2 linked regions of the Homo sapiens genome follow. The protein of the gene in region 2 purifies or fractionates together with the protein of the main gene of each other region. This does not show direct contact. Each region holds a gene or a part of one and is shown on either strand. Other genes may lie near its edges. The genes, in order: EIF2A and PRUNE2.

Region 1 (3,829 bases), on a different chromosome or scaffold from region 2:
GTTTCACTCTTACAAGGCTCTCTCCAAAACTATAAAGAATATGTATGATCAAGTACCTGTAATGGATTATGCTACAAGAATAAGAATCCTACAGATATTAATTTATAATCAGATCAATTCAGCTCTGCAACAAAGTACCACAAAACTTTTTTCCCCTTAAAGGGATGCCATAATGCTTCCAATATGATCAGACCTCTGATAACTTTTCTTGTCCCTCCTCACTGATTCTGAATCACTTTTATTTCCGCTAAGGTGCTGTATACTCTTGCCCCTGGCCTTTGTGTACAGCAGTCTCCCTTAACCATGGTTTCAGTAACCAAGCGTCAACTGCAGCCCAAAAATATTACATGGAAAATCCCAGAAATAAACAATTCATAAGTTTTAAGCTGTGTGATGAAATCTCTCAGCATCCTGCCTAGAACGAGAATCATTCTTTTATCCAGTGTATCCACAGTGTATTCGCTCCCCACCTATTTTTCACTAGTAGCTGTGTTGGTTATCAGATCGACTGTCACAGTATCAACAGTAGTTGTGTTTAAGTAACCCTTATTTTACTTAATAATGGTCCCAAAGTGCAGAGTAGTGATGCTGGCAATTCGGATATGCCAAAGAGAAGCCGTAAAGTGCTCCCTTTAAGTGAAAAGGTGAAAGTTCTTAATAAGGAATAAAAAATATTGTATGCTGATTTGCTATGATTTACAGTAAGATTAAACCTATCCATGAACTTGGGAAGAAGAAAAAAGAGATTAGTGCTAGTTTTGCAGTTGCGCCTTGAACTGCAAGTTATAGCCGTGGTCATTCAACTTACCACACAAGCATTGTACCATCTCACATTGTCGCAAAAAGGGTGAATACAACACCATTAGATATTTTGAGAGACCATATTCACATATCTTTTATTACAGTATATTATTATAATTGCTCTATTTTCTTATGAGTTACTGTTAATCTCTTACTGTGTATCACAGTCTCTATAGGGTTCGGTACTATCTGTGGTTTCAGGCATAGCTCTGCCCCTCCAGGATAAAGGGAGACTACTATATATTGTTCCTTGTGCCTAGAACACCTTCCCCCACAAGTCACCTGGCTGAACCCTACTTATCCTTTAAGTCTTCTGGAAAATCTCCCCACCTTAAGACTGGATAGTCGCACCTTTCCCAGGCTCTCATAATGCCCAGTATTTTTCCCTACGGTAACACCATATTCTACCATTCCCCATTAGAACTGAGCCTCTAGCATAATACTTGCTTCGTTGCACAGGCTAAATAAATAAAAAATAAAGGAATGACTCTTCCTTTATAATTATGACAAGATATATATTTTGGTAAGAGGGGAAAAAATTATGTAAGTATTTATTGGCTCCAACGTAGGGTTTCTACTTCTTATAGAATTTCCAGTGGAATATATATATAATGCTCCAGGTCTCCATAACCTTTTACTCAGAGTTCTGGGTAGGATACTCTGAACTTTTAAAGCATCCTCAGATCCTCAGGGAACATAGAATAGGGTATCACTTCTAGATATTCAACTCTAAAAGTCTGCCTAAGAGTTTTTAGAAAATACAGAATTGAAGTCAATTTTTCTCTTTTTTTTTTTTTTTGGAGACAGAGTCTAGGCTGGAGTGCAGTGGCACGATTCCAGCTCATTGCAACCTCCACCTCCCGGGTTCAAGCGATTTTCCTGCCTCAGCCTCCCAAGTAGATGGGATTACAGTTACAGGCACCTGCTACCACACCCAGCTAATTTTGTATTTTTAGTAGAGATGGGGTTTCACCATGTTAGACAGGCTGATCTCGAACTCCAGACCTCAGGTGATCCACCCACCTCGGCCTCCCAAAGTGCTGGGATTACAGGTGTGAGCCACTGCATCCAGCCAATTTTTCTTTTTAAAGTCATGTTGGTTTCACTTTTTGGTACTATTTAATAAACAATTATTTACCTTCTACATGAAAACAAATTACTGGGCACTTTGAGAATTCGAAAGAAAATATTAAGTTTCTCCTCTTAAGGAGCCTGTAAGTTCTGGTAATAGGCAGTTTTATATTTTTCACAATATAAAATTAAAGTAGAAGAGTAAATAAAAGAAGAGGGGATATTCTGCCTATCAAAATTCACTTTTGATATCAGATTTTAAAAATATAAAATTTTAGTTGTTTGTAATGAGCTAAGAATATAGCTCTCTAGGAAGAAAGGTTAATCTTATCATGTGAAAAACCATTAAAATTAAGTGATATATAAAATTTATTTTTCCCCACAAACTAACCAAGAACAAGTTGAAATGTCTGCATTATTATACTTAAATTCTAGCCATTCTCTAGAAAGGACGTATATATGGTAAGATTAAATTCTTATGTTTCAACTCTTTTTTGGTAAAGTCAACAAACTTATAAAATTATCACCAGTTTACAAAAATACTAGTTAGATTACATATATCTGACTGCTCTATCTTTGACTATTTACTTCAGAGTCAGGACTAAGAAGGTCTGGATAAGGTGAGATTCTGTCAAGGGCCATTTAGCTTTGTTCCATCACACAGCCACAACTTTTACTAACTTCAGCCAGTCGTCCCCAAAATACATACTGAATAGTTTATCTTGCAAGTTGAAAACCTTTGCTATTACTGGAAAAACAACTCAAAAAGCAATTCCACAATGAGGGATTACTGGTATCACCTTTGGTATCATCTTTAGTAAAAAACGTGTGTAGGTGCTTGATGACTGTATTGGCTCTTTTAAAAAAAACTGACAGGTATAAACATATAACTGAGAGTTGTAAATTTATAACTGATCAGCCCAGCTGATCACACTATTACCATGAGCTATAAAGAGTTACACATTTATAACAGAGTTACAAATAACTATTATTTATAATAATAATTTCATTATATTAATTAAATGTGAAATTATCACATAATTTATATTATAAAATGTATAAACTAATAGAATTTGTATATTATTTATATAATTAATACAATTATAATTTAGTATATTAATTAATGGTTATAATTATTAATAATTATAATCATATGTAATTATGTAAGTAATTATTTATATAATAAGTATAAAGGAATCTTAGTCCAGTATCACCAATGGTCATATTAAAAATATCTTTTGATAAAGTGGAAGAAACTTTGCTTATAAAAATAGAATTCTAAGTTGAGTGCGTTTCAGAGAGGCCCTAAAACTCAAAGGGCATCTTAGTTATCAAGTTGTTAAGGATACTACTAATGAGTTGTAATATCCAGGGCCAGTAGAGGTCCCTACTTGTACTGATGAAGGGACAAGACTTGCTTTTATACAAATCTAATATCAAATGCATGGAATAGATCATTTTTACTTGGAATAACCTAAAGCTGACCAATTAAGATACTTCTGGGGATGAAACATATTAACTACAAATGAACAGAATGGTTTTTCTAAAAGTCCAGATTTTAGCAGAATATGGTTGCATAATACAATTCTATACCTTAAAATAGTAACTGCCTCCCAAAACACATAACCAGCCTAGACCTGTCAAAATTCAAGAATTATCAGCAAGACTATACTGATATAGCAACCAGCTGTTAAAAATCTGCCCTTTCTAGGATGGGCACAGTGGCTCACGCCTGTAATCCAAGCACTTTGGGAGGCTGAGGTGGAAAGACTGCTTGAGCTCAGGAGTTTGCGACTAGCCTGGGCAACATGGCAAAACTCGGTCTCAAAAAAAAAAACCAAGCCAAAACCAAACCAAAAAAACCTACTCCCATTTCCTGCTTGAAAAACATAGCGATAACCTATCTTTACAAAAATAAAAAAATTAGTTGGGAATGGTGGTGTACATGTACAGTCCT
Region 2 (3,829 bases):
ATTGCTTTTCAGGAAAAAAAATAAATCTAGCTTTTTGCTTACCCATTTGGTCTTGATATCCTGGTTCCGAGCTCAAGGAACTCTGTCTCCTCCTCCATTTCCGTGTCAGGGATCATGTTTTTCTGAACAGGCTGTGGTGAAAGCATTTCCCATTCATTGTCATGGGTGACAGCCTGCAACGTAACTGCATCCGGGCCAGCCCTGCCTCGGCTCTTACTCTTCTGTGATTGGCTGACTGGACCAGAGGCTTCCTCTAGTGCCAAAGATTCTAGAGGCTTCATTTCTTCCAGAATCTGCAGCTGGGGACCCTCACCCAAGCCGAGTTCAGAGAACGGCTCCACAGTCTTGCCAGACCACCCAGGCCCTGAGTCCCTGGCATCCAGTGATGGATCACCAACCTCACTATGGCCCAAGAACATCCAACTCTGGTCTTGTGCAGGGCTTTCAAAAGATGATCTCGTATCGCTTTTAGAAGACATTTTCTCTGCAGAGAGACCTTTTCTTTCATTTAAGGAGGCTGGCTGACATGTGTCTGGGAAGCTTGCTAACTGAGTTCCCTGCAGCCCTGTTTCTTTGGAACCTACATACAATTCTAATTCAGCTATGCTTTCTCTTTCTTCACAGGTCTCTGGCTTTGAGTGTGAATTTTCTTCACGGTTTACAAGTATGTAATCCATGTGTAGTGCATGACGATCTTCATTCTTCTCTGTACATCTTTCTTCCTTGTATTCTGATTTTATCTGCTCAGGCTCTTTGGTAGGAATTGTTTTTTCTTCTTCCAATTCTGATATTTCCTTGCTGGCACCTAGAAGTGGAAGTTGAAAGTGAGAAGAGGAGAAAAAGGTTTAATTAACACATTGTGTGATTTGTGATCCTTGCAAATGATCATCTAAAAGAGGTAATTTAATATTTTTTATATATTTTATTTATTTATTCATTCATTCATTTGAGACAGAGTCCCGCTCTGTCACCCAGGATAGAGTGCAATGGTGTGATCTCGGCTCACTGCAACCTCCACCTCCTGGTTTCAAGCTATTCTTCTGCCTCAGCCTCCCGAGTAGCTGGGACTACAGGCACCTGCCCCCACGCCCAGCTAATTTTTGTATTTTTAGTAGACATGGGGTTTCACCATGCTGCCCAGGCTGGTCTCGAACACCTGACATCAGGTGATCCCCCCTCCTTGGCCTCCCAAAGTGCTGAGATTACAGGCGTGAGCCACCGCGCCCAGCTAGAAAATATTTTTATTTTGTAGAGTCATTCGATTTTCTCGTGCACTATCAGGAATAGGTATTACATATGCACTAGATTTTACTGCTGTTATAATACAGGACTTAGTGAGGCATGCCTTGAAAATGTAGTTAGTTTTCTCTCTACCCTCATTGGTAGGAAGAGTGTGTCTTACAAATATGCACTAGTTTAATCAACGCAGCAGTTTCTTGGAAGTGGAAGAATGGAATGTTTCTTACCATTTGGTGGTCCTATGTCTCCACCTGCTGGTAAATCAGAATTATCTGTTTCTACTTCCCAGTCAACGTTTGATGGAGACAAAATGTTGGAGCCTGCTCCTACCGGCAAATAAACGGACTCAGGGTCTTCACGAATATGCAGCACAGCCAGCTGGGATCCAGGCAGTCTGTTTTTGGTCTCAGCCTGGTTTCCCTCACTTCTTCGATCAGGAAGTGCAGAAAGCACTATCTCTGCTGCTCTGCATCCCAGAGATTCATCCTCTGGAGACCCAGCTTCCTCTATTGTTTCAGCACTCTGGGCAGGTTCTGTGAGATAAGACAAATCAAAGGGAGGTGTGTACGGTGCCAGCGACTGCTTCAGAGAATCTTCCTCCAAAGGAGGGTCACCACCATACAGGAAGTGTTCAGGCTCTCTCAGTAAATCTTCATCGATATTCTGGCCCATTACATCATATTCAAAATCACCCCACGAGGCTTCAGATGAGCAGATATCTTGCTTCCCTAGGTCCCCATCAACTGGCGTTTCCGGATGGCCTTCGGATAATGTCAGTTTACTCATGTCATCTATTGTTCCCGTGGATGTGTTGAGACCTGAGGCATCGCTGAAACTGTGGTCAAAGGCAGCTTCGCTTATATCCAGACAAGTGTCTGAGGCTAGCAAAGCATCAGGAACCAAGGCAGGATTCTCTGTGGATAAATGTGGATCACCATCAAACAAAGCTCTTGCACCAGGCTGACTTTCAGGAGAAAAGCTGTCTGATATCCAAGAACCGTCACCTTCTGGAGTTGGCTCTTGGTGAGTTACAAAAATGCTAGTTGCCACATTTTCAATCCTTGGGATTCTTCTGTCAACTGGTTCCAAAATTGGTGCCATATCTGGGCTGGCTCCTTTTTCTGATACTTGTAAACCTGTACTGTTGTCACCGTTTATTTCAGAAGGTTCAGGTGAACCTTTATGAGAGGCGGGCTGAGAGGAGCCCTTTATGTCTGCTTGATAGCCAATTGGAGGCAGCACAGTTGCGTTTTCAGAATCGAGTTCTGCATTGGATGGGACAAACTCCCGTCCAGGCTCATAAATGGGTTCTTCATCTATCTCTGGCTCAGTGAGACAAAGCTCACTGGATTCCACTTCAGGTCCCATGCAAGCACTGAGGTGCTTCTCAGTCTCTTGCTTTGCTTCAGAATCGTGACATATATCAGGGCTGTCGGAAGCCTGAGAATTGCTGTCATGTTCGCAGTGCGTCAGGATATCAGGATTCTCACCATCTGCTTTCAAACTGAAGGGCTTCTTAGCATCTATCCACAAGTCAGGCGCGGCAGAGGCCAGCTGCCCACCCTCTTGAAAGTTGCCATGTAAAATATCTGGCACAAAGGTACCTCGGGAGTCCTCACTTGGGGTAGAGCCATCCCATTCAGAGCCTGGCTTCATTATCAGTTGGGTGGGAGAACTGACAGCAGGAAAATTTTCTGTGGCAATGCTTGAATTTGTCATCTCACCTAGGTATGATTTTTCTTGTTCCCACTGATTTGTTTCTTGACCTTCATTAGTTGAAACATTAGATGTAACACAACTATTTTCCTCTGCGTGAGTAAAGGCTGTGTCCGGATGATCACAGACTGGCAGCATGGTGTCCTGACACTGCTCTTGGGTAGGTGTTTCAGGAGTCAGCTCATCACCAGCAGCAGACACAAAGGTTTGCTCTCTTGAGTCCTTTTCTTTAATTTGGTCTAATTTTACAAGCTGGCTGAACTTGTCAGCATCTGGGTCTGGCTGCCTTGGTTGAATGTTCCAGAGTTGCTCATGGGAGTTCTTCCCATTACCTTCCAGAAAGGGTGACTGATGGTTGTCACTAAAAGGATTAGTATAGTGTGTTTCCACGGGCTCAATATCACCCTGAACTGGTACTCCCCAGGGACTGGCATTTTGGTGTACTGAAGAATTTATCTCCAACACACCACTGGAGTCAGACAGCTCCCTTTCAAATGGACTTTCAATTAGTCTCCCTTCCTGGGGTGAGGCCTTCCACCACTCAGTGCTATCAGCTGAGAAGCCCAGCATTTCCAGTTGAGAATTATCTTCGTTCTTTGGGAACGAAGCTTTGGGAGATATTTGCCATGCAACATCTCCTGTTGTCCCTGTTTCTGGAGAAGATCTCTTCTCCTTCTCCACTGCTGTAATCTGCATTTCAGTCTCCGTTAATGGTGAGAAAGTCCAGGGATCAGGGCTGCTTTGTTGATTGTCACAGAATGGGTTTGACTTATTCTCATTCTCTGCTGGCTCTGAGCTGTCTAGGTAGTCATAAATATTTTCAGACTTAGGATCAGCTGTGACCAAGAACTTATTAGATTCATTCAATGAATCC

What was found.
Region 1: the proteins of PRUNE2 (region 2) and EIF2A fractionate together in Homo sapiens (co-fractionation; one large-scale study listed by BioGRID). This does not show direct contact.

What each region holds. Positions count from the first base shown.
Region 1 is NC_000003.12:150,577,474-150,581,302, reverse strand, and holds part of EIF2A (eukaryotic translation initiation factor 2A), read right to left. Parts: intron 1-3,829. UniProt on the Homo sapiens protein: Functions in the early steps of protein synthesis of a small number of specific mRNAs. Acts by directing the binding of methionyl-tRNAi to 40S ribosomal subunits.
Region 2 is NC_000009.12:76,703,295-76,707,123, forward strand, and holds part of PRUNE2 (protein prune homolog 2), read right to left. Parts: coding exon 1,467-3,829; intron 806-1,466; coding exon 43-805; intron 1-42. UniProt on the Homo sapiens protein: May play an important role in regulating differentiation, survival and aggressiveness of the tumor cells.